7 separate regions of the Homo sapiens genome follow, and regions 2, 3, 4, 5, 6 and 7 are each linked to region 1. Evidence: fine-mapped QTL for protein levels in blood plasma. Region 1 holds a variant in brackets. A gene starts in each other region. All regions are shown on their forward strands.

Region 1 (4,402 bases):
CAAGGAATAGGGAGGCCCAAGGAGAGGGAGATGGAAGGATGGCTGATCAGGGGTGCAGGGAGAAAACACACACAACATTTGTCAATTAAGTTCACCATTTTATACGAATGTGGTTCATGGCGTCCCAAAACATAATAGTAACATCATAGATCACTGATCACAAATCACTATAACAGATATTATAATAATAATGAAAAGGTTTGAAATCGTTTAAAAATTAACAAAATGTGACAGAGACAGGAAATAAGCCCATGCTATTCAAAAAATGGCACTGACAGATTTGCTTGAGGCAGGGTTGCCAAAAACTTTCAATGTGCAAAAAACCTAGCATTTACAAAGTGCATCAAAGCAATGTGCAATAAAACAAGGTGCTCCTGTAATAGAATGCTGGGAGGGGTGGTATGATCATTTACTTTGGATGTTTAAAGGTTTTAGTACTGATAGCTTAATAGGAATATCTAGTTCTTTCAGGCATCAACAAGAGTAAAAGTACTGAAGTAGTATTTTTCTCCAACTGAATCAATCAGTGGGATGGAATTTACCTCATTTTATGTTCTCTTTCTCCTTTTCCATTACCTGCTCTCTATGCTTCACCCAACCCATTCTTTCATGACCTCAAGTTTACCCAGCAAAATCTTCACATCTACCATCACCTGTACCAGAACTTGTATTTCTCTAATTTTTCAGTGGACTAAATCCTTCACGTTTTACCTTATATCTTGCTAAAACACTTTTGCTAGCTAATCCTAGTTTATTCTAGATTCCTTTATTATCATCTCTCATCATATATTCTACTTTCTCTCTTATTTCATAGCATTTTTTATTATTTGTAATTATTTAGTCATCTGTGTGATTTTTTGTTGTTTAATTTAAGGATCCCCTCTTTCTAGAGGAAAAGCCCCATGAATGGAAAAGCCCCTTGAACTGTGCCTATTTTGCTCACTCCAGGATGAGTATTATTTCTTAGTATTATTTCTTTAAACTGAACAACTCTAGTAAGATTCCATTCTTATATCAGAAAGTAAAATGACTATAAGATAGCATGAGACATTAATTTTGTGACAAAAGTTATAAATGTAGCATTGGTTCTAAGAGATGAAATCCTTGCTCTTCTGAGGGTCTGCAGAGAACAACGAACAGAGCTAGACAAATATAATTTGGAGGTAAGAATGCAAATAAAAAACTCAAATTATTAAATTATGTATGTAATACATCCAGTTCCAAATGCAAAAGAAATAGTCCTTGATTTTCATACACTACCATATTATCATTTTATAGAAAGATTTCCATGATTTATTTTAAAATGCACAGGATATTCTCTCTCTTACACACACACATGCACACTCTTTTTTTTTTAGATGGAGTCTCGTTCTGTCGTCAGGCTGGAGTACAGTGGCACAATCTCGGCTCACAGCAACCTCTGCCTCCCGGGTTCAAGCAATTCTCCTGCCTCAGACTCCCGAGTAGCTGGGATTACAGGCGCCCGCCACCACGCCCGGCTAATTTTTGTAGTTTCAGTAGAGACAGGGTTTCACCATGTTGGCCAGGATGGTCTAGATCTCTTGACCTTGTGATCCGCCCGCCTCGGCCTCCCAAAGTGCTGGGATTACAGGCATGAGCCACCGCACCCGGCCATGCACGCTCTTTTGAGCACAAACACACACATACACACAGATACAAAGACACAGACATTGAACAGATATAAATATATACTATGTCAAATAACTATTGTCAAAATTTTACCAATTTTAGTGTACCAGTTTTAGTTTAACCCAAAAAGCTGTCACTGTTTAGAACTTTGAAATAACAAAATGCTATTTACTCTAATAAGTTATTCCTCTTCCAAATGTGGCATAGACACAAAAGAGGGAGAAAAAGGAGAAAAAGTCCTATAGGGACATACTATAACATAAGACAAGATGTACCAACCACAAGGGGAATAGAGATAGAGGAAAATATCTCTATTTCAGCAAAAACAAATCATTTCACCTTCAAACAATACGATTATGTTTTAAAGAACCAGTGAGGATCAGTTTCAAATTACTATTAGTGTAAACTACTCAAGTAGAATGATCTGTTGAAATGGGATTGTTCTGAATTACAACAGAAAGGCCTTCCACACTGCGGAAAGCAGAAGGCCACCCTTAGTTAACTTATAATCCAGATACTCATTTCCAAATTTTAAATTAAAAGAAAATACAAATTTTAAGCTTCTTACCATATCTGCCAGAGAAATATAGAGGAACATGCCTCCAGCAAGTGCAAATATAATATTTGGAG[C/T]GAAATTGTTGCCCACCAAAATGCCAAAAGCTAGCCCAACATAGCAGGAACATGCAGAAAGGAAGTTGAATAGCAAGGCTTGTCGAGTGCTCATCCCTGCATTGAGTAGGATCACAAAGTCTCCTAGAAGAAGAAGAAGAAAATATCAAGTGAATAGTTTTTTTTTTATTTCTGGATGATATCAAAGATAATCATCAATGTCCAACAAGGTCTTCATTTTAGTGCATCAGAAGGATTTTAAGAGCATGTCACCTGAAAAGTCTCATTCCACTGAAATCAAGAAGTAAGCAGACTTTTACAATATGAACAGAGCTCCTTACCTAACTCGTGGGGAAACTCCTCACATAGGATTGCTATGGAAGTACTGAGTCCCTGAAGGAGAGACAAGGTGCAGGAAGCCCCAATCGCCAGGCCATCGATGAAATTGTGGAGGGCATCGCAGAGCGTTATCATCCAGGCAATCGTCCCTATTTCTGACAGTTTGGGCCCCTTCAAACAGGTACATGAACTTGGCTCTTTTTTTCCATCCTAGCAGAAAATCAATTAAAATGATAACCAACATTTCTTGAAAGTCTCAGAAATACAGACAAGTTGGAGATGGGTTGTGCTTGAGAAAAACAAATTGTTCCAACAGAAAGTCTTTTAGAGTAACTAGGAAACCCTAATAATATATAACAGAGCAAAGAAAACTTATGGTTGAGAGAAAGGAAATTCATCAACTGACACACCTCGAATAAGCCACTAACAGATATTTTCCTTTACTTTCCCTTTAAAACAATTCTTTTGACTTGTATAAACTTCTTCCTACTGCCTTTCTAAAATGTAGCAGATATTAACCTAAGAAATTTATTTATACACAAGATTTAAAATGAAGGAAGTTATTCAAAGACTAAACTTAAAGTCTTTTTTATGTTACAATTTAAATGTGAAATCCACAACTAGAGCATGATGAATGACATCAGCAACATTTGTTCTAACCCCTCCTATGCCACCATGTGACAGGGAGCAAGTTATCACAGAGTTCCTTCAACTGTGAAATGAAGACATTGTACTAAATGATTCATTTATTTATCAACAACTTATTGAGTTTCCATTCTGTTCCAGGTACCCTGTGGAGGGTTTAGGCTGTAACAATATGGTCTCTACCAGCTCCAAAGCTTAATTATTTTCTTAACAAATTGCATGAAGTGTAAATGGAACAGGCTAGCCTTTACACTAACACTTCCTTTCATGTAGAAACAATTAAAAAATAGAAAATCCTGTGATGGACTCTTTGTAGGAATTTAGATTTCCAGAAAATTTACAAAATTGTACAAAATCAAATGACAAATGCCAACTAAAACACTTTCCAGAAGTTGTAGAAAAAGATAAAATGCAAATTCATTTTTAAGTACAAAAGCACTTTGCAATTAACTGGAGAACATTTTATTCCTAATTCTCCTCCTCTCACCTCTACCTAAGCAGCTAATCATTACATTTATTGAACTTCTGAAATTTGTAAAACACTCTGTTGAATGCTATAGGAAATACACAGAAATGGAAAACACAGCTTCTGTCTTCAAGAAGTGTATTTACATTGGAGAAACAAGTCATAATATATATGGATACATTAAAAAAAAAACATGCAATATATATCCAACAGAGAGGGGCTTACTTCAGAGCAACCATCTAAGAGGTTTTACAGTTACTCCAATATCACTTCACCACTCCAAACACTTTGGGGACCAACACTTTCAGAATCAGCCTTAGATCCTGCAATACATCTCTTTACTATTTCGTTAGTGGCAAATCTGCACCTTTGGATTTTTGTTTGTTTGTAGGCACAGATAAAAGCATTTGGAGCAAATATTTTTTTAATTAATATGAAATGAATGGGAAACTGTTAGTAATAGGATTCATCATCATTGTCATCACCAATGTGGTCGTAGTAGAAATAGTAACAGCAAAGGCACATAGCATTTATAATGTGCTAGGCACTGTTCTAAGCACTTCAAATACCGAATTCATTTGGAACAATTCTATGAGGAAAGTACAACTGTTACCATCATTTTATAGTTGAGGAAATTAAAGCACAAAAAGGTTGGTAAACTTACCCAGAGATACAAAAAAAGAGTGAATGGGC
Region 2 (4,402 bases), not on the chromosome of region 1:
TTCCCTCAGAAAAAACTGACCTGAGGATGTTAAGGAACACTGACATTTCAGTATTTGTATAATCATAATAATATTTATTCCCACAGAGGAGCTGTCATTATTGACGTTTTACAGAAGCCACAGGCTTTGCTCAAGTTCATTCGGTGGTAAGTGGACAAGCCACGCCAGAACTTAGCCTTCTGCTTCTCTGTCTGGCCTGGACGTTCAAGATTGCAGCAGCGCCTTTTTGGTCATGGTTGAATCAAAAAATAATTTTTGAGAAACTTTGCAATGATCAGGCCACATAAGCCACCGAATATGACACATCTCCTGCATTTTTATGTTCAGCTCAACAGTGTCATGATCCAAAGTGTCTTGGATCTTTTTTTTTTTGAGACGGAGTCTTGCTCTTGTCACCCAGGCTGGGGTGCAATGGCACGATCTTGGCTCACCGCAACCTTTGCCTCTCGAGTTCAAGCGATTCTCCTGCCTCAGCCTCCCGAGTAGCTGGGATTGCAGGTGCCCGCCACATTTTTTTTATTTTTAGTAGAGACAGGGTTTTGCCACGTTGGCCCGGCTGGTCTCGAACTCCTGACCTCGTGATCCGCCTGCCTCGGCCTCCCAAAGTGCTGGGATTACAGGAGTGAGCCACCGCGCCCGGCCCGAAGTGTCTTGGATCTTAATGAGGTTTAGTTAATCTATGACTGCATCATCATGAAAATTTCCACAATGTCCACCAGGCTTTGTCATTGAATCTTCCAGCAGCAGAGCCCATAGGTCTCCTTGGCTTCCTGACACCTTCGTGGGCAAGGCGCCCCTGTGTTCAGAAGGAAGAGGAAAGTGACAAATTCCAAAAAGGGCCAGAGGGAAGGATATTCTTGGGATCCCATAGCTGGCACAGGGCTCCATGTGGGTGGACACTCTGAGCTTGGGGACTGCAAGCTCCCAGGTGACGCATTACACATTAGGAGTGGCATTTCCTGTGCCCACCTGGTCATTCTGTGCAAGCTGGGGCACCTACTCAAGGCACGTGTGTGAGACTGTGTGTGTGTGAGTGTATGTCACTGTGTGTGAATGTGTCAGTGTGTGAGTTTGTGTGTGAATGTGTGAGTGTATTTCAGTTGTATATGTAAGTGCGTTGTGTGAATTTGAGTGTTTCAATGTGTGAATGTGTATGTGTGTTTGTATCAGTGTGTGTGAATTTGTGTTTGTGTGTGAATGTGAGTTTGTGAATGTGTGTGGGTGAGAGTGCCTGTGTGTTTGTGTGTGTGTATATGTGTGTGTGCATGAACGTGTGTTTGTGAATGTGTGCGTATGTGTGTGTTTGTGAATGTGTGTGGGTGTGTGAATGTGTTTGTGTGAGTGTATGTGTGTGGGTGTGTGTGAATGTGTGTGTATGTGAGTGTGTTTGGGTGAGTGTGTGTGTATGTGAGAGTGTGAGTGTGTTTGTGTGTGTTTGTGTGTGGGTGTGTGAATGTTTGTGTGTGTGTGTGTATGTGCATGAACGTGTTTGTGAATGTGTGTATGTGTTTGTGTGTACGTGTGTGTATGTGTTTGTGAAAGTGTTTGTGAATGTGTGTGTGAGTGTGTATATGTGAGTGTATGTGCATGAACGTGTTTGTTTGTGAATGTGTTTGTGTGTATGTGTGAGTGTGAATGTGTGGGTGTGTGTGAATATGTGTGCATGTGAGTGTGTATGTGAGTGTGTGTTTGTGAATGTGTGTGGGTGTGTGAATGTGTGTTTGTGTGTATGCGAGTGTGTTTGTGAATGTGTGGGTGTGTTTGTGTGTTTGTGAATGTGTGTGGCTGAGTGTGTTTGTGTGTGTTTGTGAATGTGTGTGGGTGAGTGTTTGTGTGAGTGTGTATGTGAGTGTGTTTGTGAATGTGTGTGGGTGAGTGTGTTTGTGTGAGTGTGTATGTGAGTGTGTGTTTGTGAATGTGTGTGGGTGAGTGTGAGTGTGTGTATGTGAGTGTGTGTTTGTGAATGTGTGTGGGTGAGTGTGTGTGGGTGTGAGTGTGTATGTGAGTGTGAGCGTGTGTGTGTTTAGAGTCTGCACTCTGTGTGGATCAGGAAAGGGGTCCTTGCAGGCTCGCTGAGTCCCTGCTCTGTGCCCAGCCCCGAGTTGGCTCCAATGGGGCTATATAGAAAGGAAGGCATGGCCGGAGGACCTCTGTGTCAAGTTGAGGACACATTTCCAAGACTAGGAACCATTCAGGGACTCTGGAGTCACGATGACAACTCCCCTTCCCTCAGCCCCGAAGCCCAGGCCTGGACCTCCAAGGGACTCAGGGAAGGGACTCAGGAAAGGGGAGTTCCCCCTGGCAGCCTCCTCGTGGGCACCACCGAGGGTGAGAGGAGCCAGCTCAGCGGGTCCCACCCCCAGGGTTGCCCACCTTGACCACAAGGAAAGGAGGGAGGAGTTATTGGGCCTTCCACTAGGAGGAGACCCGGGGAAGTGAGAGTCGGGGATCAGTCCTGCAAGCTACGGAGTCACTACAGGGAGAGGTCTCATCACTAGAAATAGCCGAAGAACCTGCAGCCTCAACCAGCGTTAAGGAGGACGTGCCGTTTCTAGGGAGTCTTAGTCGGGGCTCACCAGCTTCCTGCATTTTCTGACCGGCTCCAGGAATAGAACCAAAAGAAGCTGAACAAGGAAGCAGCGCGGCACCAAGAAAAGCAGAAGTCGGGGCCTTGGAGGCGTGACTTTCCCCTCGGGTCCAGGTAGGGCCTGGAGCTGCTGCAAGTGCCGCCTGTGCTGGGGAAGGGACCATGTGGCTGCCTTGGGCTCTGTTGCTTCTCTGGGTCCCAGGTGAGAGTTTCCCTTCCCGGGAAAGTCTGCGGCAGGGAGGGAGGGTGCGAGGGGCAGGGCCGCAGGGCAGGTATCACACGAGACGCCCCGAGTCTGGACTCCGTGCAGAACGCAGAATGCGGTGCGCTCTGTCTACCACATAAGATGGACAGATGAAGGTCCACACCCCTGGGAGAGGAAGGAGCCAGGGCCTCTCCCGGCTCTGCACCCACGTACCTTGGCTGAACCACAGCGGGGCAAGTGATAAGGGGTGGGTGCAGAAAAGGGACCTTTTAGGTTTTCAGTTGAATTCTTACAGGAAGGGGGACGAGAGGCAGGATGTGTCAGGGTGGGTGGAGAGTGGCAGCCACTGACTGCGAGGGGCATGTGGTGAGGGTGGGGGAGATGCCGGGCTCACTGGGTGCAGGGTATGGAGGAGGGGGGTGTGGGGAGGGTGGGGGAGATGCCGGCCTCACTAGGTGCAGGGTACGGAGGAGGGGGTGGGGCGGTGAGGGAGATAGGGTCGGGGTGGGGAGCAGATCGATAGTCTCTGGAATGCGGAGATTTAACCAGGGCAGCCCAGCGGCTGGGGCCTGAGCAGGGGGAAGTCCCGAGGCAGCCTTGGCTGGGGTTAGCCCCTGCATGGGCCTGAGAACCAGGGGTCAGTCCTCTCCAAGAAGGGGATATGGGACAGAGGGGACAGAAAAGGTGGTGGGGAGGGCGAGGAGGGAAAAGATCGGGCAGAGAAGCGCTGAGATCTTCTTTAGGGAGAAGCGTGGAGTTGAGTCTTCCCTGTCCAAGCGCAGGGATTCCTCCCGCAGAGTCACCTGCTGTGCCTTCAGTCACGTCCACCGCTCTCCTCAGACAGCTCCTGTGCAGACTCCTCAGGCCTAGTCCTAGGGTATTGTACGTCTTTGTGGTTGCTTTCCTTACAGATCGGAGGTTTTCTGCAATTATATTTGCTAACTACTTGTCTGTGGGAAGGTTATTACTTTTGGTGTCTTGACTTGGAAACGGGTCATCCTCCCATAACAGGTGCTCCTGCGATTCTCTTGGGTGTTCTTCTGTTTCATAGGGTCGGTGTGCATGGGAAGGTTTCAGTTCCTGTCTAATATCTGTTTCTCTTTCTCCCATTGACTCATTGGCTGGTACAGCCGGAGTGAGGCCCAGCGGACATAGTGGTAGTGGTTGTCCCTGCCTTGTTGCTGACTCAGGGAAAAAGGACCAGAGCTTCTCATTATTAGGAAGAAGGGATCCACCAATGACTATTCACAAAGCATTTTTACTTTTATTTATTTATTTATTTATTTATTTATTTATTTATTTTTTGAGATGGAGTTTTGCTCTTGTTGCCCAGGCTGGAGTGCAGTGGCGCGATCTTGGCTCACTGCAACCTACGCCTCCCAGGTTCAAGTGATTCTCCTGCCTCAGCCTCCCGAGTAGCTGAGATTACAGGCATGTACCACCATGCCTGGTTAATTTTGTATTTTTAGTAGAGATGGGCTTTCTCCATGTTGGTCAGGCTGGTCTCAAACTCCCAACCTCAGGTGATCCACTCACCTTGGCCTCCCAAAGTGCTGGGATTGCAGGCGTGAGCCACCAAGCCTGGCCAACATTTTTATTTTTTTGAGACA
Region 3 (4,348 bases), not on the chromosome of region 1:
CATGCTTCTTTAGCTCAGGAAAGTTCGTTGTTACCCACCTTCTGAAGCATACTTCTGTCAGTTCAGCCATCTCAGCCTCAGTCCAGTTCTGTGCCCTTGCTGGGGAGGGGTTGTGGTCATTTGCAGGAGAAAACGCACTCTGGCTTTTTGGGTTTTCAGCATTTTTGCGTTGATTCTTTCTCATCTTTGTGGGCTTATCTACCTTTAATCTTTGAGGTTGTTGACTTTGAATGAGGTTTTTGTGGGGTCTTTTTTGTTGATGGTGTTGTTGTTGTTTTGTTTGTTTTTCTCTTAACAGTCAGGCCACTTGACTGCTGCAGTTTGCTGGAGATCCGCTCCAGACCCCAGTTGCCTCACTTTTTCCTGTATCTGGAGGTATCACTAGTGAAGGCCACAAAACAGCAAAGATGGCAGCCAGCTTCTTCCTCTGGAAGCTTCATCTTGGGTGGTTTCTGATCTGTTGCCAGCCCTCATACACCTGCAGCAGGTGGTTAGAGACCCCCATTGGGAGGTTTCACCCAGTCAGGAGGAACGGGATTAGGGACCCACCCAAAGAAGTAGTCTGGCTGCTTTTTGTAGAGCAGGTGTGCTGTACTGGGAGTGGGGGTGGGTGGGGCCCTCATAGTCTGGACCACCTGTATTCTCCACAGCTGGTAGGCTGGATCAGCTGAGTCCACTGAACCATAAAGATGGTGGTTGTCCCTCTCCAAGGCAACCTGTCCCAGGGAGATATCAGAGCTCTCTCCATAGCGCCCTGGCTGGAGTGACTGAAGCTCCTGCAGGGAGGACCCACCCATGAGGAGGAATGGATTGGGGTCCCACTTAAAGAAGCAGTCTGGCTGCAATTTGGCAAGGCAGCTGTGCTACATTGTGGGGGACCCTTCCTTGTATGGTCCATCTGTATTATCCACAGCTGGCAGGCTTGAATGGCTGAGTCTACTGAACTGCAGAGATGATGGCCTCCCCTCCCTCCAGGAGCTCTGTCCCAGGGAGAGATCAGAGCTCTGTTCATAAAACAGTTGCTGGAGGGGCTTAAGGAGGTCCTCTCTAGCGAGGAGGAATGACTTGGGGTCCCGCTTACAGAAGCAGTCTGGCTGCTTTTTGGTAGGGCAGGTGTGCTGCATTGTAGCAGAGGGAACCCTTCCTAGTTTAGACCGTCTGTATTCTCCACATCCAGGAGGCTGCAGCAGCTGAGTCGGCTGAATCACAGAGACGGCAGCTGCCCCACCTGCTGGGAACTCAAACCTGTCTCAGGCAGACTCCTATCCACTGCCATTGGCTGGCTGGGATTCCAAGCTGGTGGGTCTTAACTTGTGGGGTGTCATGTAAGTGGGGCCTGAAGAATGGTATTGCTTGGCTCCCTGGATTCAGCCCCCTTCCTACAGATGGATTTCCTGCCTTGCTGATGATTGTGGCCAGAGTATGTAAAACTTCTGGGCCTCTTTGTATGTGCCTGAGTGGCTGCTCTGTCAAGACAACACACAGCTCTGTGTATCAGACTCAAGGCCCTGGTGGTGTGGAGTCATGAGGGGGTCTCTTGATCCACAGGTTGCAAAGATTCATGGGAGAAGCATGGTTTCCTGGGTTGCACAATCACTCACCACTTCCCTTGGCTGAGGGTGGAGGTTCCTTTGGCTCTGTGCTGCTCCGAGGTGGGCTCCCCACCCTGCCCAACTTTTCTTCATTCTCCATGGGCCGGTGGTTTGCCTAGTCAGTCCCAATGAGAGAACCTGGATATTTCAGTTGAAGGTACTGAATTCACTTGCCCCTTCTCATTCCTCCCTGAGTGCTGCGGGCAGGGGCTTCTAATTGGCCATTATGGATTGATCTCCCTGCAGTGAAGTGTTCTAAGTAGGAAGAACACATGGTATTGTGGAAAATCAACATAGCATGGTGGCTCAGAAATAGATTCTGGAGCCAGGCAGGTTGCTTGGTTTGGAATTCTGGTCCTGCAACTTACTGCAACCTCTCTATGCCTTAGTTTCCTCACAGTTTAAAGAGGGATAAAATAATATCTATAGGTCTATTTGCGAGGTTTTAAAATTCTTGGAATAGTACCTGGCTCATTATACATGCTATAGAAATGCTTATTCAATTAAATAAATAAAAGCATCTTTGGTAAGATAACTCTGAACATTGTATGGTTTAGTAGAGGATGCTGACAAGAATAAATAATTAAAACATATCATGAAGTAAGCATAAAAGATAGTGGTAATGCAAAGATGCGAATGAGCTCTGCTTCCTGTGATTAGTGTGAGCAGACAAATTCACTGTACTCAGAAGCTTAAAGCCTAGCGTGGGAAGCTGACATGAATGAAAACCAACGGGAAAAAATGTTAGAGTAGAGGTGTAAGCAAGAGTGATTAATTTCAACTTGAAAGCAAATGGGGGAGGTTTCACAGAGAGGGGCCCAGCATGTTGGTTGATTGCTTGGGCTCCAGAATCAGGCCAGCTCAGTTTAATGCTGACTTTGTACCTCACTGGTTTTGTGACTTGACCTCTCTAATCCTCCATCTCCTTATCTGTACAGTGGGGGGAAATAATAATGATAATAATAGGTAGCTCATAGGACAAATAAGAATTCACAGTTAATGCATCAAAAATCTTAGCACAAGGCACTCAATAAATGTGAAGCTTTTATTGTTATTACGAGTTGAAACTTGAGTGGGAAAGAACTTCGTTCACATTAAACATGAGAAAAGGCCCAGAAGTTGAAAAGCATTTGACATAATTAAAGAACAGCAAGTCAGTGCCACTTAAACGGTAATCCAACCACCGCCAGTCAGTGAACAGCTTTTTACTGCTCCATGAACAGGTAAGTATAGAAATTGTGAGTAAGCATTTAGAAATAAAAACAACAACAACAACCAATAATTGAAAAACTAATTTTATACTTTTTGGCATACTCATTGTACACTTGTAATAAAAACTGGGCTTGTAGTTTTTGTCTCTTTTCTTATTTGCTAGCAGGTTTTGATTTGTATTTTACAGAAATAATGGTCCATGTCAGATTGGAAATAATAAAAACTTGTCTTTTACCCTTGATAGTTTGAGAAAAAAGTAATTCAGTGGGGTTAGATATGGCATCCGAGAGATGATTCGGGAAAGGTGGGCCAGGGCCATGTTTATGTGGACCCTCCAATGCCTCAGAGTTCACACTTGTTTCAGTGGGCAACAGGACTAGTAAGGTTTAGAGGGACTGTTAACCGAAGGTGAGTGGACTTTGCACATTTTATGGTATTTTTTTTTTCCCAGTAGGCATGTGCTTATTCTTTCTTTTCTTTTCTAATTAAAAGTTCTGTTTGGTTTTTTTAGTTAAGAGGAGAGACTGGAACTGCTCAGTGTTTCACAAAGATAACTGTTTGTATTTGATAAGAGTTTCGTTAAACAAAGGAATTTGCACTTATCAAAACATAAAGCATTGAAAACACTGAGCACATACTCTGTGACCAGAATGCGTGTGACTTGTTGAGATAAGCCACACCGGGTAATCAGATGAGTCTCCTTTCTTCTTGGGCACCCTCATATAATTCAGGCACAAACGAAAGAGAAAACGCTTTTTCTGATCTCTCAGTTCGGGTCATCTCTGCCTTCCATCATCACCGCCTAACAATCCTACACCTGGCAGGGTGGGAAAACGGTTTAATAATCTCTTCCCTTTGGGAGGCGTTTGACAGCTCAGAAAGCATGGCCTTTACTCAGGCTCAGAGACACACAAAAACCTTTCACGTTTTCCTTTCAGCTTCGCAGCCCCGTCCTTCTCCACCTGCACGGGCACCCACTGAAGCACAGGACCCTTCTGCCAAGCCATGAGCCTTCTCAGGCCCCTGCCGCCCGCCTCGCCTGAGGCTGCGCTTCTGAAAAGCACGCGGCCCTGGCCTGCGCACCACCCAGTCTGAAGGCGACGCCCCTGCACGAAGGAGTCAGGCCTAGGGGCTCGGGACCCAGGGCGACACTCAATTTTCTAACAGGAGCCACAGCCCAGAAGCTGAGAAGCCTTCCGGCCGATCTGTGGCCCTGAGGTCGCCCTTGGAGGGCGAGTGAGAACCCCCCAGGCGTTCCGGAGGTGGCCCCCAGCCCGAACCCGGCGCCCGCCCCGGCTTCCCGAGTCAGGTCTTTGCCCCGCCTCTCGGCCCCGCGGCCTGGCCGGCAAGCAGGGCTGCAGTCACGGGGCGGCGCGGAGGGCCCCAGCCCAGTCAGGGGTGTGGCCGCCGCCACCGTAAGGCTAGGCCGCGAGCTTAGTCCTGGGAGCCGCCTCCGTCGCCGCCGTCAGAGCCGCCCTATCAGGTGTGTTTGCAGCCGAACTGGCAGTGCCCGCGGGCGGCTGGGCCGAGGCCTTGGCTCCTAC
Region 4 (4,000 bases), not on the chromosome of region 1:
GGCAGAGATTAAATCATGCCTAGCATTTTTTGGTTGATAAAGGAAGGGAAATAAATACTTCAGAGAGTCATGCCCAGAGTAAGAATACTCGAGGGTAATAGGGATTCTTAGCTTGATGAAAAAATATGAATACACAGGACACCTCATTCCCAAGGGATTTCAGGAATCCAAAATTCTGCTGCAACAGAAAAGATTCCTCTAAAAAACTGCAGAAGTCAAGCTTTTCATTAATTCTTTCCAGGCTCTCTCCTTTCTTACTGTCTCCCTACCAATGTGTGTTAATGAGGTTTTACTGGAACCCATCATGAGCCACAGGTAGAGACTTAAACCGCTCCACCCTCCCTGTAGAGCTGAAGCCAGGGATGACATCACTTCTAGAAGGCTCTGAGCCTGAGCGGAGGCAGCTAGTGCCTCCCCCCATACCCTCTCTGCCAGGCTGTGGGAAAATGTCTCTACTAGCCCCCATAATTAGGGCAAAAGGGATTTTATGCCTTTCAAGAAAGAGAAGAGAGAAAGAATGAAAAATAGCAAATAACTATTCCAGAACAAGCCATTTTTCTTACATGGCAGAAACAAAAGACCACAGTAAACACACACACACACACACACACAGAGAGAAAGAGAGAGAGAAACCTTTTTAGACAAACCTGTTTTAGTCTCTTGGGAGTGGTTTTGAGCAACCTCCTCTCCTAGCAGCCTCCCCTCACCCATTCAGTCACTCCTTGCTTCCCTGGTCCCCAGGGGGTTTCTGACCTGCTTCCCACTGGGGCCAGAGTGAACTTTCAGAGAGGGTCAGATCTCTGCCACTTGCAAATACCTTCTCCCATCTTAAAGCAAATCCCAGCTGCCTGATTTCTTTTAGGAAAGGGGTATCAGAGCTTTGGGAAGGCAGTGCATGCCCCCACCTTTAACCTAACATGGACATTCACTGTAAGAGGAAGAGGGCAGAACTGGGAAAGAGAAAACAAACTAATCTTTGTAAGATCAGAAAAAGCAAAAAGAACACCTAAGCTTCAAGCCAGAGTCTGACCCCAAAGCTCAGGTGGGGCTTTCAGGCTCAGCTCAAGCACCTCCTCCAGGAAGCCTTCCCTCCCTGCAGCTCCAGGGAGTCTCCCTCCTTTCCCCTTTTGAGACTCTCCTGCCTCCTGGGCCCTATGTCCAAGTTTCTGGGCAAGAAATAATGCCTCACACTGCAGCATCTGCCCCAGCCCACAGAAAACTCCAGGAAAGGCAGTTCACGGGGAAGCCCAAACTCCACCTGCCTCCCCAGCATTAACGGGTGCGGTGGGATCCCAGGGCTCTGGAATGTCTGCTTTACCCCAGGCAGGCAAGGGAACCAGCAGCCCTCCTAAATCCAGCCGGAAATAGGTGGAGGACCCAACTTCAGCCGCCCCTGCTGAGGCCCCATCATGTGCGAGAATGGGGCAGTGAGGTGATGCCCAGCGGTCCAGGGAGGTAAGGCACCCAGCTCCATTCTCTTCTCCAAACTCGGAGCGAAGACTCCAAGCACAGTCTCAGTTCCACAGAAACCACCACCCTAGAGAGCAGCTTCTTGGACCTGAAAGCCAGGAGTGCATGAGACCCAGCTCGGAAATCATGGCCCTCCCCGTGCTCCCAGATACCCCTCACAGTCCAGCCCATTCACAGTTCAATAGGCACAGGGACCTCTCCTGGACCGGAAAATGTCTGGAAGCACGAGTCACCTGGGAAGCAGGGAGGGCGCTTTACACATCGGTCTCAGAAACGACTGTCCCTACCTCATCTCCCATGAGACAGACTCTGTAAAGAAAAAAAAAACCAAAGCGCTCAATAACTGGCAGCTACTACACGAGGCAACGCTTACGGAGGGTCAGCGCTGCTGAGACTTGTCCAGATGCCACATTAGCAGTGGAGAACCCGAGTGCCCACCCCGCCCCCGCCCCTTCCCTGCCCACGTGCCTCCCTTTGCCAGAGCTGGGGAAGTCGAACTGTCCAGATGTAGTGGCGAGACACCGCCACTTCCGGAAGGGGAAGCGCCCCTGGCTCCGCACCTCCCCTCTGCATCCCTGGGGATGGCCGAGCCGGCCCGCAGGAGGGACCCCGGGACGCCAGCACCGGGCGCGGGGGCTGGGGAGGCGAACTCGGGCGGCAGACTCGGGCACCGGGCGGCCCGCGCTGACACCTGGCTGCGGCCCAGGTCCCAGCCCCCGTCAAGGCCGGCGTTACGGGGCTGTTCCCAGGAAAGGGTTACAGGGGCCGAGAACAAAGCGCCCCCATTGGGGAAGGCGGGCTAGCGGCCGGTGGCCGGGGCGGGAGAGCCACTTTCTGGGGACCCTCAGGCTGCTCTTTGTCGGCCACGTCCCTCTTTAGTGGAGCGTCAGCCCCGCTGAAGGTGGATGCTGCATCCCACCCAAAGGCCTCTTACAGCCCCGAGCTCCACATCTGCCCCTCTTTTCTCCCAGCTGCACTGGGCGGGCCAAGGGACCCGCCTTCCCTCCGCGCGGCTTCAGCACAAAGCCGAGCCGGGGAGCGGGAGGCCATTCCCGGGTCCCCTCGCGTGGAAGGCGCCTGCGCCTCGGCCGTGCCCGGCACGGGAACGCGCCCTCCGGGGCCAGCTCAACTTCAGCAGCCCAGAAGTTGGGCTCCTCCGGGTCTCCAGCGTTCCGAGGCCAACTTCCCGGAACCTCCCGCTGCCGGGCCGGCTCAGCTCACCTCGAGCCGCCCACGGCAAGCCCGAGGGCCCTGCAGACGCTCGCCCGCGCCCCCCACGCAGCCCTGGCCCGGCTCCCCGGGCCAACGCGGCCGCCTCCCGCTCCCGCGCCGGCCGCGCTGCGCCCAAACTTGCCCTGGCGCAAGGGGCGGGGCGCCCGGGCTCGGCGGCGCTGGGGCGCAAGCCCGCGGGTCTGGTTTGAATTAGGGTCTGCAGGGGGGGCGTTGTGGCCGCGGTCACTGCATCCCCCCGGGTCACCGACGGGGGCCCGGCCGCCGCGGTGGCCGGGGCGAGGAGGGTGGGAACGGGCGACCCCGGGCGCCGCTGTGGGCTGGCGGGCTCCGACAGATGTGGAGACGTTTTACATAATTGAGCGCGGGGCCCCGGCCCCCCACCCTCCCCAGCGCGGGACCGGTGCGGCACCCACCGACAGCGGAGGAAATTGGGGCTGGAGCCCTGGTCTCGGGGCTCACCGTCCCGGGACCCGCTGGGCTAGCGCGGGAAGAAGGGAAGTCTTCGCTCCCCCTCCCCCTCCACGTGCACCCGCCGGCATCCGCGGGTGACCAGTCCCGGCTTCCCGCCGCCTCCCCGCCTGGCCGCCGGCCGCACTCACCGGCAGGGCCGGCTGCAGGCTCAGCGCCAGCGCGCACAGCCAGAGCCAGAGCGCCGCGCGCCTCATGCTGCCCGGACCGGCGGCGGGAGAGCGGCAGGCTGCGCGGGTCGCGGCTGCGGGCCGGCTTCGCGGGTTCCGCTGCTCGATGCTCTCTTGGGCGCCTGCCCAGCGCGCCGCTGTCCCAGGCGAGGGCTGCAGGGTCCGCCGGCTGGAGTCCGCTCTCTACTGCCGGATTCCTCTCCGCTCGGCTCGGATTCGGCCCGCACCTCTCCCGCCGAGCTCCGCCTTATAATAAACCCACAGGCCCTTCCTTAGCCGTTGCAAAAACTGGCCCCCCACCCCCAGCTCCGCCAGGTCTCCCGGCCAGCCCCAGTCCACACCCCCCAGGACCCCGCCCCCCAGCCACCCCTCCCGGCCCCTTCGGAACGCCCCACCCCCGGCCCGCTCCTAAGGTTCTTGCCTGCTTGGCTCCCGCTCCTCCGGTGGCCGAACGTCGCTTTCGGGAGCTGTGGTCCCCGCAAGCCGCGGTTCCCGGCCTTTCAGCTCGGCTGCTCCCTGGGTGGTGGGGCCGAGGCGCACCCCCTTCTGCCCGGGCCCGGAGTGCGGAGGCGCAGCCCGGGAGAGGGGCTGAAGGGGGGCAGGCAGTCCTCGGGCGCGAGTGTGCAGCGCCCTCTGGGCGTGGACGCGGAGCGCGCTCC
Region 5 (4,359 bases), not on the chromosome of region 1:
ATATATTGTTATATTACTTATTACATTTATATAATTACACGTATGTATATATAGTATACATATGCACATTACACACACACACAAAAGCCAGTGACGCTGCTAATCCTTCTACATTGCATAGGGCAGCCCCCACAACAAATAATCATTTGACCAAATATATCAACAGTGTTGAGTTTGAGCCCTGATGTATACATATATGTAACTATTTGAAAACATCTGTAAAATGAAAGATGGAATTTTTTTGAAGTTATTTTAAATGTTTGACATTACATGGCTCCAACTAGAATCATAAATATTTTTTCTAATGCTAATTCTGTTATCCAACTTAAATTAAGATGTTGGTTTCTGACTAAAATCAACCATTTCACCAAGAATGGGAGTAAGGGTAAGTTACTTAAATTTTCTGAGTCTCACTTTCCTCTTTTGTAAAGTCTGGCTAATCATACTGGCCTGTTGAGGATTGTCATGAGAAACATAGAAAACAGATATAAAATATTTTGTATAACTTATTTATTTTAAGAAGTGAGTTAAAAATTTTTTTAGTTTAAGATTTATTTGCACATACATGTACCACCGTTCAATTTTCAAGAGTTCTGTATACATCCCATCCTTACTGACTCCACATAGCAGGTGCCAGTTTTACACATGGGGAACTGAAATTGGTGTAATGCTGTTTTTGTCCCATTGTGAGAAAGTAGCACGGGTGGAATTTGAACCCAGGTCATTGGGCTCCAAGGGCTTGGATATGTATTTGATTAAAAGAAAAACTGCCCTGGGTCTTGGCCCAGCACTATTTCAATCAGGCCAAAATGCCTGCCAAATAATCCAAATAATTGAATTGAATTGAAAAATATCCACCTTTTCAATAACATCAGGAACAAAAGTCTACAATATCCTGTAAACTATAATTACTAATATTAAGGGCATGTCCGCTTTGTTGCGTTTCTTTATTTAGGAATTTGTTCTGTGGCACTCTTCTTTGAAACCTTTGGTTGGAAAGAAACTATGTTCACTGAAAATGCAGCACATTTTGTCTTCTTTTATATGTTTTAAAGCTTTCTAGTTCTGGATAGGTGTGAAGAAGTTGAAAAAGCAACATTCTCAGGTAAATTACGTACTACACAGTAATAGGACATCCTTTACATCATCCTGGAAACATATGCGCTTTTTATCTCACTCATCGCAGGTGAAATTTCTGGTTTTCTTCTAACCTTAGAATGAAATTATAAAAACCCAGGCAAGATTTAGTTTTATTTCTCTGTTTTTCCACTAGTTTTCCAATCGGGATCTCTATGTTGTTTAGTAACACGAACTTCACAATAGAAAGTAGCTTACAGTAAACCAAACCCCCACCACATGCAATTTACCTATATAACAAACTTGCACACGTACACCTGAACCTAAAATAAAAGTTTTTCAAAAAGAAAACAGCACATGGATATAAAGATACATTTACAGTGCTAGTATAAAGAAGAATAATGTGATTTTTATTAATGAACAGAAGTACATTAATATGGTGTCTCTAGTATTCAATTCTATTTGGAAATTTTCCTCTAACACAGAAGCTTTTAGAAAATTCAGCATAAAGCAGCTTTCAAATAAATTGGCATATTTAAATTTTTCACAGACTTCAAACTCTCCTCCATTATAACTGTCTATGCAAAACCCTCTCAGAAAGTTTTATATTGCTCATCAATTTTCGTGTCTGTGCATTCAAAGCACAGCTATCCACCTACTTGAAAATTTTATGCTGACAAAAAGAAAAGTCTGCTCTTTTTAATTTTGTCTTACTATCAGTGTGGTCCCATGTGGAAAGGCAGGCTGCTAAATGCTTTTCGAAGGCTGGTGAACAGGTTAGACTTGCTTACAAGGCTAATTAAAATTGATGCATGCCATCTATTACATGTTACTACTGGATCTAAATAAAGTATCACTTTTCATCATTAATGCCATGTTCCTTCTCTACTCTGTATAGAAGTTTTTGCTTATTTTGTATGTTCCCTTTGGCTACAGACACATCACCCTTCTTAGTAAACTGTCTGAGTTTTTCAGCATGACTGTCTCATTATTTCTGTATTGGAATGGCCTCTTAGCTCTGTGTTTTGCAGTTGTTTATAACATCTACTAAAAGCGACATGAAAAGATGACACAGTCAGAAATACGGTAAAGACAGAAGTAACAGTATTAACTGACCTCATTTAGTTAATAATATGATGTGCTCAGTGCACTGCTTTTAGTCTGTAGCAAACAGCACATTGGATGTTTACACTAATACAGATATTGTAAAAAGAAGAGCAATGCTTCTGGATATATAACCGTACATACACTGCCCACGTGCTTATGTGAGAACTATGTTATTCCGAAGTTGCTTATCTGAATGGTAGGAAGATTTCAAAAAGGCTTTCTCAAGAATGAAATAAAAGGAACAGTAATGACCCTTACAACTCCGAAGATACGATTATAATTCTTCCGACTATTATTAAAGCAAACTCTGTACATCTTCATAATATAAGATTGCCAGTAGTTTTCTTTTTAAAAAGCCCAGCATAATCTCCTTAGAAAACCATTATGAAAGAAAGCCAAGAAGAGAGGACAGGAGAAGCACAAAAGATTCCCACGGGAAGGACAAGAAAAAGGTGGTTGTCAGTGCTGTGAGAACGAGTTGAAAGGCATGGGAAATATGGAAACAGACAAATTCCAATGCAGATCCACTAGCTGGAGAGGTAATTTTGCGTCTAATTTTGCACCTCTCTCCTCGCCTCCCCGTCTGCTCTCCACCATCACGCTTTTCGACAGTAAGAAGGATTTGGGGTTTTGCAGACTCTAGCGGGCATGAAAAGGATAGGGGGTGGCAACGACTTGAATTAATGACGTTCTCCTACAGGATGGAGGGGAAAATGACTTAGTGTCATCAAATGAACTCCCTACTCCTGGCATAAATTTATCAAACTGCAACTTTATCTCGAATACTCTGGAAGAGTAGAGGAGAGGCCCTAGAGAAAGCAAGTCTTGAGGGGAAACGCAATGCTCTTGGCAAAAACCGCACCTCCCTCTTGAACTACACTGACTCTTTTCACAGAGCGCCTTCCTTTAATAGAATCACAACCACCTGGACTACTAATAAGAGGAAGAAGAAAGGAGAAAAGGGAAGGGAGGATGGCAAAAATCACGCTCTAGAAGATCCAGGCAACGTCGTCGTGAAGAATAAAGGGAATCAAAATGGGCACTGGAACGCTGCTAAGGGCTTGCTTTGTTAACACACTTGCACAACTCAAGTTCAGCTCTATCTTATGTTGAAAGTCCTTGTTTACGATCCTCGTAGGAGGTTCTTAAATATCTGCCTGCGAACTCCCAAAGACTGGGCGCTTACTAGTTAGGGGAGGCAGCTGTCCCGGAGGGTGTCCAGCTCGGATGGCTGACTGCTCTTTCACTTGTCGTTAACTTCCACCCAGTAGTCTTAGTCTCCCCTTGGACATGGTACCGACCGTGTGCCATTCTTATTTCACTTGACCGAGCCCGAGCTGCAGCCCAGGGTGGAAGCCGCAAGGGCTGGGCAGAGTTCCAGGCAAGAGGGACCGAGAGGCGTGAGCAGTGCTCCGCAGCGCTTGTCAGAGAAATGGAGCAGCGGCTCCTTTGTGGGCTCTTACATCCCCGTCCTGGGTGCACAGCCCGGATATTTGATCTGTGGGGTGATTGATAAGTGAGGGAGAGGGGGGACGCGATCCCTCCCTCCCTCCTCCCTCCCTCCTCCCTCCTCACTCCCTCCTCCCTCCTCCCTCCCTCCTCCCTCCTCCCTCCCTTCTTCCCCTCTCCTCCCTCCCGCTTTACTTCCCTCCTCCCTCTCGCCTCCCTCCCTCCTTCCTGCAAGAAGCGTTGCCCGTTGGCTAGCTGCTCGGTGGGGATCTGCCTGCCCTGGGGGCGCCGCCCGCGCTCCCCGCGGTGCTCTCGCTCCTGGGCTGCGCCAGTCCGAGGCGGTGCCGGCTCCTTTGCCTCCCCGAGTCGCAGATGCTGCGGGCGCCTCCGGGAAAAGATCTGGGCGGCGCGCTCGCTCGGTAAGTTCTGAGCACTCAGGGACGCGGTGGCGACGCGGCCAGTGAGCCGGCTTTCCTCAGTCCGTTGCCTTTCCCGGCCACCTCTCCTTGCGAGGGGCACCAGCGTGGGGAGGCTGGGCGCCATCCGCGGAGGGCAGCTCGCTGGCGGCCGCCCTCTACCCTCAATCCCCACTGGAGATTCCTCACCCCGGGACCGTCCGCGCGGGCGTGGTCGGGCTCCGCGCCTCGCGCAGCGGGGTGGCACAGGCGGCCAGGGAGGGCCCACGCACCCGGCGCGAGCTAGAAGCCTCCGGTCGGCCTGCAGTGC
Region 6 (4,402 bases), not on the chromosome of region 1:
ATTTGTTCCTACCTTTAAAAAAGGATTCCAGATATATTTTCCTTATTAGGGAGAAGGTTACTAATTTTCTAATACTGAAAGTGACATCTGAGTGAAGACCTCATTAGGCGGTGAGTTGTGTGGCTCTTTGTGGAAGAGCATTTTGAGCAGAAAGAACAGCCAGTGCAAAATTCTGAAAGGATAGCTGGACTGTGTTTGAGGATCAGCCAAGAGGTCTGTGTGGCTAGAGAAGAGTAAGCAGGGTGATTGAAGTCAGAGAAATAAGAGGGTGGGGCTGGGTGCAGTGGCTCACGCCTGTAATCGCAGCACTTCGGGAGTCCGAGGCAGGTGGATCATGATGTCAAGAGATTGAAACCATCCTGGCCAACATGGTGAAACCCTGTCTCTACTAAAAATACAAAAATTAGCTGGGCGTGGTGTCACACGCCTGTAATCCCAGCTACTTGGGAGGCTGAGGCAGGAGAATTGCTTGAACCTGGGAGGTGGACTTTGCAGTGAACAGAGATCGCACTCCAGCCTGGTGACAGGGTGGGATTCTGTCTCAAAAAAAGAAAAAGAAGGAAAGCAAGAAAAGAAAGAAAAGGGTGGAGCAGGTCCTATAGGGCCTGGTTGGTCATCGTGAAGACTTTGGACTTTACTAAATGACTTGGGAACTTGTTGGGTCTTGAGCTAAGGAGTGACATGGCCCAATTTCTGTATTAAAAGGATAACCCTGACTAGTGTGTTCAGAATAGAGTAGGGTGGGCAGGGCAGAAAATGAAGGGAGACCGTGGTCAGGAGGCCACTGCGGTATCCCAGGTTGATGGCAAGGGCAGCTTGGACCAACCAAGGCATCACCACCATGGGCACAGAGCATGGTCAGCATCTGCTGTGTTTTGAATCCTGAGCTGATAGAAATTGGCAATGTCTGACAGGAACGGATGAGCTGAAGATGCCTCCAAGTTTTCTCTCCTGAACAACTGGAGGAAAATAGTTCTTTTACTGAGATGAGGAAGACACAGGGGACGGGCAGGTTTGGCAAGAAATATGCAGCCTTCATGTTGGGACCTGTTAAGTATGAAATAGCTCTGAAGCATCCGATTGGAAATGTTGAGGTGGCAATGAGATCGAAGAGTCTGGCGTTAGTGAGTAGTCTGGGTTAGAAATATAAATGTGGGAGTTATCAGGCTATCATTGGTATCTAAAACTATGAGACTTGAGGACAGCATTGAGGGGCTGGATAGAGAAAGAAACAGGAGTGACAGGGAAGAACTTGGAGGCACTCTCATGTTAAGGGGTTACAGAGGTAACGCAAAGAGGCCGAGAAGCGGCGGCCAATGAAAGACCAGGAAACCCAGCGGTCTGGAAGCCAGGTGAAGGCATGGGAGCAGGTTGAACTGATGGCTCAACTGGAGTTTGTTAGGCCAGTGGTCCTCAAAGTATTGTTCCAAACCCGCTGCGGCAGCAGCAGCCTCTGGAAACTTATTAGGGACGTGCAGCCTCTCAGGCCCACTCCAGAGCTACTGGATCGGAAACGGAGGGTGAGGCCCTTCAGCAGATTCTGATGCACCCTCAGGTTTTAAAACCACTGCCCTCCTCACAAAATTGCCTGCACAAAATTATAAATGGGAGAAAGGAGGAGGAGGAGGAGGAAGAGGAGGGGAGGAAGAAGAACTCTTTACAAGAAAAGAATATTGTTGGAGACCCACTTAGTGCCCAAAGCAAACAGCTTCCTCAGAAGTAACTCCCTCCCCAACAACCCCCTCCCAGTGTAAAGCCTCCCATTAATCAATCTATCATGGCTCTTTGGAGAGAAGGAATGCCCCCATTTCACCGGACGGAGGGAATGCTGAGCACCAGGCATGCCAGACATTCCACCGGCTAAAAAAAGTGGGGGTGGTATTCCAGGGTTAGCATTGCTGGACCGTAAACGCTGAAACTCCTTAGATATAAAGCTTATTCCACCCAACCGTTTCCAAATTTTCCTCCAGGCTGTCCTTGGAGAATTCCACCCTCTTTCATTCTGGGGAGAAGAAGTTAAAATTAGGGCCAGCCCTGCGGGACTGACATGCCAGATGCAGGGAAGCTGTCCCCAGAAATAAGCGAGTTCCCACCGCGGCTGGGCGGGGCGGGAGCCTCGGGTCCCAACCCAGCGGAGGGACTCCTGGAAGGCCTGCCCCTTCCAAGTGTCTGCAAGGGCTCTGGTCCCAAGCTTTAAAATCCTGAGCGAAGGCACTGCGGGCCGACCTCTCCTCTCCCAGCCAGTCGTGGCTGGCCTTTCAAAGTGTGCAGTTGTCTCCTCCCTGTCCAGCCCCATCGTCGCCCAGGACCAGCTGGGCCGCGGTCTGACCTGAGGCTGCTGCTCAGCGCCGGGGCGCTGGCGCTCTCCATTCGAGCACCTTCCAGCATACCGCTCGGCTCCGGGAGCCGCTCTGCAAAGTTGGGCAGCTCAGAGCGCAAGCTTTGCCTCTCGACTTCTCCCTCCTTGGGTCCCCGGCGCCCCCGCCTCCCACGATCCCTTTCACTAGGAGCAGCCAGTCCCAGCGGGCTGGCAACTTGCACCCCTTCCTAGTCATCCTCCCTGAAACGCGACCATGCTGTTAAGGGGCGTCCTCCTGGCGTTGCAAGGTAAGGCCTGGACCCCGGGACAACCCCGGGGGCGCTCTGACGACTCGCCCCCGCTCCTGCTGCCCCCGGGGGTCCGGCTCACCGTGCTGGGCTGGGCCATCCGAGGGCGCCTCCTGATCCTCCGCAGCCGCTAACTCCCTCCCCTGGCCAAGCCTGGGGTGGGGGTGGGGGTGGGCGTGGGGTCGCTCAGTGGAGGCGCCCGGGGATGCTGGGGGACAGGTACTGCATCCCTCTCCCGCCCCCTCCCGCTCGTCTTTCCCCCACTTTCACCAGGTAGTCCCCCTGGGGCTCCCCGAGTTGGTGCAAAGGCTCCTGGGTGGAGCTCGAACTGAAACTCGCTTTGTGCCCGCAGCCCTGCAGCTCGCCGGTGCCCTCGACCTGCCCGCTGGGTCCTGTGCCTTTGAAGAGAGCACTTGCGGCTTTGACTCCGTGTTGGCCTCTCTGCCGTGGATTTTAAATGAGGAAGGTAAGGAGGCTCGGTGGAGAGGGGCGCGAAGTGAACTTTCTTCCTTGATGGCTTGCTTTTTTTTCCCACATGGGTAATGTTATCTTGGAGTTAATTCTCCGCGGCAAGAAAAGTGTGAGTCATGGATCCTCCTTCAAGCCCTCAGCTGTGCTGCAAGGGATGGCCGAGGCAGGAACGGGGCGGGCGGGAGGCCGCCCTTTGTTTACCTGGCCTATGGGTAGAAGCTTAAAATTTGCGTCTCACCCCAGCACTCCTTAATGGAAGGGAGAAACGGAGCACAGCTAATGATTGTTCTCCGCTGTGGGCCTCTGCAGGCACACCAGCTGTGTGCCTCTGCAGGCCAGCAACCTTTCTGGTCCTCAGGAGACATGTCTGTGAGTTGGGAAAAGTTGCATGGGACTAGTTCTCCTTCAGCTTTGCAGAAATGGTTCCACAATTCTGTGATGGGACGTCAGTGCTAAGACATCACGTCTGCCTTGACCCTGACAGTGTTTTTTGCTGCATGATTTCATCCTCACACTCCTGTTTGTAATCCTGCCCTGGACAAAAGAAACCATGTACACTGCCAAATGCCTGGGGTCCCTGTCTCACTGGTGGTCATTGTCTTACTACTCTATACTGTTTGGGTCCCAAGGACAAAGTTTAAATGTGGGGTCTTCTGAAGTGTCATCTTGCCTTTATATAGTTTTTTTTGTTTTTTGTTTTAAAGTGTGGTTCTCAGTACCCAATGGCAGGCGGCACTGGGTGTCCCTTCTTTCCTTTCTCTCTCTTTTGTCACCACCAGTGAAGCCTGATGCCCACAGACTATTTGGATTGGAAAATAGCCTTCTTTAAAAAACATGGTACCCTAGATGAAACCAGCTCACCTCCTTCCCCACTCAATTGTCCTCAGGCCGCAGATCCTCCCACCTCGCTCCCTGGGGGAGGATGGAGCCCGGAACCCCTGGTTAGATGTATGAACTGTCACCACAGCTCACTCTGCCCCAGGCTTCTACTCAGGGTTCTGCATACATTAGCTTCTCTGACCCTCACAGGTAGGTGATGTTGGACCCGTTTTACAGAGGAAGGAATCTCAGCCATAGAATATTCAAATGGCTAGTCCATATCACAGTGTCACTGAGTGGCTAACTCTGAGTGTCTAGTTAGGAAGAAACAGGAAGGAACTGGTTCAGTAGTAATCTCCATCTTTATCCAACAATTGCCAAGTCTTGACTACTACAGTCTACTTAGGGGTGGCTGGGAAAAAGCAATTCTTGATTTATTATTCGAGGGATTCCTATCTTGCTGATGGCTTTAGGAAAGTCTCTGTAATCTTGCCACTCACCCTTT
Region 7 (4,402 bases), not on the chromosome of region 1:
GTCCCTTCATTGTCACTAGAGAAACTTGCTGGGCCCATTCTATGAAGGTCACCTTAGCTTAACAGACCTACACACTCAAAATCCCCACTCAAGGGTTGCACTTATAGGAGGAGATTGCAGTACTTAGTTATCTAGAAAAGATTTATGACCTTGTTGAGATTAACTCTTGTTACTGTTAATGGATGTTATGCTGCAAAGCTATGACAGAACATATGTCTTGCTTTATTTTTTAATGGAACAAGCTAAAAGTCCCATCCCACAGGACCAGCTAATTACACAGAGACTTTAAAGATAGAGAGCTCTGAAGATCTTACCCAGACCACCTTTTCCCCTTGCTGGGGTCACTGTACTTTTAAGGATTCTGGGCTTTCTGAAATCAATAAAAGGGCCTTGGAAACAACAGTCCAAAGCAACTCAAGGCTGTTCCTGCTGAGGTGTACTTAAAGACTGCAGAGGAGAGACAGGAAATGGCTCTTATAATACAACATGGTGTATGGTGTCCTTGTCCACAAGGCCCAACAAGACTTGGGAAATCCTATTCTCTTCAAGATGTGTGATTTTAATGTTAGCTTTAAATGCAACACGCTCCGGGTGGAAGGAAAAACACGTGGACTCTGTTAGTGAAAATACAGAGTCAAGGCAGACAGATTTCCTTTGGGTCTTAGCCGAATCTGAGTTGGAGTCAGCTGACATCAGTTTACCTCTTAATCATTCAGCTCAACTTCTGGATTGTGCAGTAGACTTCTTGAGCTGGAATTTACCTGCTTGTTCACTTTCTTTTTCATCTGCCAAAGGACCACAACATAAAGGGCCAAATGGGACAGTGGCTTGCACACAGAAATATCCAGAAAAATAGGGCAGAGACCAGAACAGCATGCTAGTAAAGCCTTCTCTCTTAATAAGCTGCGCTGATTTGGTGAACTTCACTGGGGCTCCTGGGGTCAAAGTTGTGTAGGGGTTAAGGATATAGGAAGTGAAAGTGGGTGCAAGTGAGAAGGGCACGTTCTTATTAGTGAAGAGGATTCTGAAACGTTGGAATTGGTTTCCAGGAAACGAGGGACGGCTGTTCTGAGGTTTCCTTGGACTCCTCTGGGATCCCTGTTGTGAATATCAAAGGAGTACTGCTGGTGAGGGGGAGCGGGGGCTTCAGAGAGAGTGGGAAGACTGAGCAAGCTAAGTGGAGTTCATTTGGTATAAATCAGAGGCTGTCATTTCAGATTTCATGACTCTACATATCCAGTTATAAATAACGTTCCTAGGTGTTAGTAGGACAAATAGGAAGTGGGACAGAAGTCTTAAATTTGGGGGATCTTCATAGGGAAGGTCAGGTCCTGAAAGGGTCGCATAGAGGGGAGAGGACCCATTCTCTTCTTGCCGGCAAGTAGAAAACAAAGCCCAGCCCAGCTTTTCTCTCCAGAGAATGTTGTGGTGGGAGAGGGAAAAGAAGGTGGAGGTCCCGGAGGAATTGCACATGGGGCCAAAATGTGACTATGAAAGAAGAGTGGGCTTTTGATAATACCATTAAGAAAATCACGCAAGAAAGAAAAAAAGATGGTTAGGAATTACCCCTATGTGGCAGCATCTGCCCTGCAGAATGAGAAGGTTTGCAAATAGACTTCCCAAACCCCAACCACAGCTCGCTCCGCCTCGAGGACCCCTTTTCTGCACCCCCACCTCAGCGCCCTCTTCCTGCACCCACAAAGAGAGTACTCAGTCATAGGGGTTCAACAGGAGAGAGGAGACAGAAGGTACAGGCGGTGAGCAGGGACTCAGCCATCATCCCCCTCAGGTCCCTCCCCACCCAGTTGACAGAGCGAATCCCGAGTAATTGTTTTCCGAGGGGGTCCGTGCGCGCTCGGTGGCGCCGCCTCGGTCTGGGTTCCCCCGAGGAAAAATACCCACCCGCGAGGGCTCGGCGGCTTTTCGACTCGGCGGGGATGAACTGTGGCAACTTCGGCAGCCCCCACCGCGGTGCGGAAGTAAAGAGGGCAACATTGGCGACTGCGGCTCGGAGGGGCTGGAGCGCGTGAAGCCGTGGGGGCGCCGTGCGCCTCCCGCTCTCTCGTTTCGGCCGCAGGTCCTGGGACTCCGACTTCGGTGCTCCGGGTGATAGCGGCTGCGGCGCCTGCAGTCCAGATCCTCGCAGTTCTGCGGGCGAAGGAGGCGAACGGAATCGGCCCCCAGTGGGGAGCGCAACAAGCCACAGTAGCCAAACCCCGCGCTCCTGCCCGGGCTCCCAGACGAACGCAGCCGCAGCGGGGGGCCGGGCCCCGAGCCCCACGCCGCCGCCGCCGCGCCAGCGGTGGGGGGCGGGCTGGGGGCGGGGCGGCCGGGGCTGCCTTCCCGGGCGCATATGCGAGCGCAGCACCCGGCGCTGCCGAGCCACCTCCCCCGCCGCCCGCTAGCAAGTTTGGCGGCTCCAAGCCAGGCGCGCCTCAGGATCCAGGCTCATTTGCTTCCACCTAGCTTCGGTGCCCCCTGCTAGGCGGGGACCCTCGAGAGCGATGCCGATGGATTTGATTTTAGTTGTGTGGTTCTGTGTGTGCACTGCCAGGACAGGTAAGCATGACTGTGGCGGTTAGAGGGATCCGGGAAATGGGGGTGCCCACAGACCACGGCGGCGTGGGGAGACCTGGAGCCGAGCTTTGCGCTGGTCTGGGGAACGGCGGTAGCGTGGACCGGTTCCTGGGATCTCTTTGCCCTGCTCGGAGTGACAGGGTGAAAATAGGGACTCACGGGCTTGAAGATGTCCCCGTTGAGTGCCCCTTCTCAGGGGACCCGGCCTCAGGGGCGCAGGAGTGAGGGGCGCGGCCGAGTAGGCGCACCCTCTTGCTGCTAGTAACCGGCTTTCCGTCCCAGGGAGTCGAAACCCGCAGCAGGGCGGGCCCGCGTGCCCCGAGTTCCCGAACTTGTAAGGTGCTGTGGAAACCACTCTCGCCGACCCCCGCCAGGCTGGGAAGGGGTAGCTGCGGGAGTCGCACCCGCAGAGGGAGCGCTTCCGGCTGGCGGGCGCGGCCGGGGCCCGGGAGGGCGCGGTGCGGCGAGGGCAGAGAGCTGCGGGAGAACCCTGGGATCCCGCGATCTCCTCCTGTGCCTTCCTGACTACCCAGGAGAACTCCAGGAGTATTCTCCTCCGCCTGTCTTTGCTCCCAAGGGCTGGGCGAACAATTATCTGAGGGAAATAGAGCAGTGGAGACAATCTGGGGAAATTTTCTCAAGCTCAAACCAGTTTTCTCTTGCCATAATCGCAGGGTTCCGTGTGGGGAGGGGGGAGCAAGGATGACGCTTGATTGTCTGAAGTCCCCACTTCGTTCTGCCTCCGGAGACGCAGTTGTGAGGACTCTCAGCGCATCTTCTTCCTTCTGCTTCCACCGGCTCCCTTGCCCAAAAGTCCCCTGGGGTTCGGAGACTGGCTTGCAGCCGCCTTCTTCAAAGAGCTAGTAGTAGATGCGGGGAGACTGGGGTGAGGTGAGGTGGGGTGAGATGTAGGAAATTGGCAAAAATAGGGCCTGTCAACTGGGGGGAGTGTCGGAGGTTTGCAATCCTACCCAGCCATCCTCCGTACGCGCTGCACCCCAGAATCTGTGTGGTCATTCCCTTTCCCTTTATTCTCCCCCCTTTACCATCCTTATTTCCTTCTTTAGAGGCGTGGCCTTCTCTCTAGGCCAAAGAGCAAGTTCATCTGGAGAGGGCTAAGAAGGGGCGTCTGCACTTGGTTGGCTCAAAAGTTCCCTCCGCTTGCGCCCAGGCGCCCCTCTTTGGCAGTTAGCCCGCTGGAAGATCTAGCGTCTAGGAGCTTTCAGAGGGCCCTTCCCACTTCCCCAGGACTGAGCAGGCAGCGGCTTTCGTCTGGTTAAGAATGTTGAATATGGATTTCTCAAGGGACAAAAGAAACCTCCCATTCCGTTCCTTACCTCTATCCGAGCTTCCCAGGCTGCGGAGACGCCAAGGCTCAGTCTAGCTTAGAATAGTTGCTTCTTGAGTTCAGGCCCATCCGGATGGGTTAGTCTTTTAAAACCAGGACACGCTGAAGGAGTGCGCGCACCCCAGGAAGATCAGGACAGGCAAGACTAGTGCAGAGCGTGGGCTACTGGCTCTGAGCGCGAGAGTCTGGTGCTCGTGGACATCTTACAGAGGAACCGCAGACAGGAAGAAGCTAGGTAGGGAGGGGGCAACCCGTTAGTGAGTTCACATCCCTAAGTGCACATCACTACGGAATATGCCTAAATCCTTTGTTCTCATTACTCCTTTGAAAAGTCGCCAAAGTACCCTTATCACGGAATGGAACGTGTTTCAGGGTTCATTGCTTGTGGAAGGGGTCTTTAAGAACAGGTATTTTCCCTCTTTCCACTTCCAATCCCCTTTAAATCTTGTAAAAATTTCGTTGTAGGGGAAGATTCAT

Direction of the effects. Positions count from the first base shown, and alleles are read on the strand shown. Strength reflects both the effect of a copy and how common the allele is.
For the plasma level of the protein whose gene starts at base 2,680 in region 2, C is the low allele of the variant in region 1 and T is the other (moderate association).
For the plasma level of the protein whose gene starts at base 4,127 in region 3, allele C in region 1 goes with a higher level than allele T (moderate association).
For the plasma level of the protein whose gene starts at base 3,631 in region 4, T is the high allele of the variant in region 1 and C is the other (moderate association).
For the plasma level of the protein whose gene starts at base 3,855 in region 5, T is the high allele of the variant in region 1 and C is the other (moderate association).
As copies of T replace C in region 1, the plasma level of the protein whose gene starts at base 2,224 in region 6 goes up (moderate association).
For the plasma level of the protein whose gene starts at base 2,367 in region 7, allele T in region 1 goes with a higher level than allele C (moderate association).

What was found. PIP is the posterior inclusion probability: the model's chance that the variant is causal. The UK Biobank Pharma Proteomics Project read protein levels with antibody pairs (Olink). The fine-mapping took linkage between variants from a reference panel, not from the people measured, so its PIPs are less certain.
Region 2: CD300A starts here. The variant in region 1 is fine-mapped to the plasma level of the CD300A protein (UK Biobank, PIP above 0.99).
Region 3: it holds the start of CPQ, and the variant in region 1 is fine-mapped to the plasma level of the CPQ protein (UK Biobank, PIP above 0.99).
Region 4: it holds the start of SDC1, and the variant in region 1 is fine-mapped to the plasma level of the SDC1 protein (UK Biobank, PIP above 0.99).
Region 5: it holds the start of SLITRK2, and the variant in region 1 is fine-mapped to the plasma level of the SLITRK2 protein (UK Biobank, PIP above 0.99).
Region 6: it holds the start of MAMDC2, and the variant in region 1 is fine-mapped to the plasma level of the MAMDC2 protein (UK Biobank, PIP above 0.99).
Region 7: it holds the start of NELL1, and the variant in region 1 is fine-mapped to the plasma level of the NELL1 protein (UK Biobank, PIP above 0.99).

The regions. Positions count from the first base shown.
Region 1 is chr4:102,265,272-102,269,673 of GRCh38, forward strand. SLC39A8 (solute carrier family 39 member 8) reads right to left here. Exons shown (of 9, transcript NM_001135146.2): 7 at 2,601-2,808; 8 at 2,219-2,403. Among named protein-coding and RNA genes, the nearest start is that of SLC39A8, 78 kb to the right of the region's middle. RefSeq lists an enhancer at 2,159-3,358. The variant C/T (reference allele first, on the strand shown) is at 2,281.
Region 2 is chr17:74,463,955-74,468,356 of GRCh38, forward strand. It overlaps CD300A (CD300a molecule), which reads left to right and starts at 2,680. Exons shown (of 7, transcript NM_007261.4): 1 at 2,680-2,789. The coding sequence starts at 2,750. It overlaps LOC124904056 (a long non-coding RNA gene), which reads right to left and starts at 3,820. Exons shown (of 2, transcript XR_007065899.1): 1 at 3,596-3,820; 2 at 54-796. RefSeq lists silencers at 3,172-3,231, 3,272-3,331 and an enhancer at 3,692-3,821.
Region 3 is chr8:96,641,116-96,645,463 of GRCh38, forward strand. CPQ (carboxypeptidase Q) reads left to right here and starts at 4,127. Exons shown (of 8, transcript NM_016134.4): 1 at 4,127-4,287. RefSeq lists a silencer at 4,002-4,348.
Region 4 is chr2:20,221,500-20,225,499 of GRCh38, forward strand. It overlaps SDC1 (syndecan 1), which reads right to left and starts at 3,631. Exons shown (of 5, transcript NM_002997.5): 1 at 3,303-3,631. The coding sequence starts at 3,368. RefSeq lists enhancers at 825-1,332, 1,333-1,839, 3,599-4,000 and silencers at 1,998-2,197, 2,608-3,067, 3,088-3,147, 3,188-3,607, 3,668-4,000.
Region 5 is chrX:145,813,975-145,818,333 of GRCh38, forward strand. SLITRK2 (SLIT and NTRK like family member 2) reads left to right here and starts at 3,855. Exons shown (of 5, transcript NM_032539.5): 1 at 3,855-4,052.
Region 6 is chr9:70,041,625-70,046,026 of GRCh38, forward strand. It overlaps MAMDC2 (MAM domain containing 2), which reads left to right and starts at 2,224. Exons shown (of 14, transcript NM_153267.5): 1 at 2,224-2,607; 2 at 2,960-3,073. The coding sequence starts at 2,574. It overlaps LOC124902179 (a long non-coding RNA gene), which reads right to left and starts at 2,417. Exons shown (of 2, transcript XR_007061571.1): 1 at 2,330-2,417. RefSeq lists a silencer at 2,209-2,503.
Region 7 is chr11:20,667,220-20,671,621 of GRCh38, forward strand. It overlaps NELL1 (neural EGFL like 1), which reads left to right and starts at 2,367. Exons shown (of 20, transcript NM_006157.5): 1 at 2,367-2,559. The coding sequence starts at 2,505.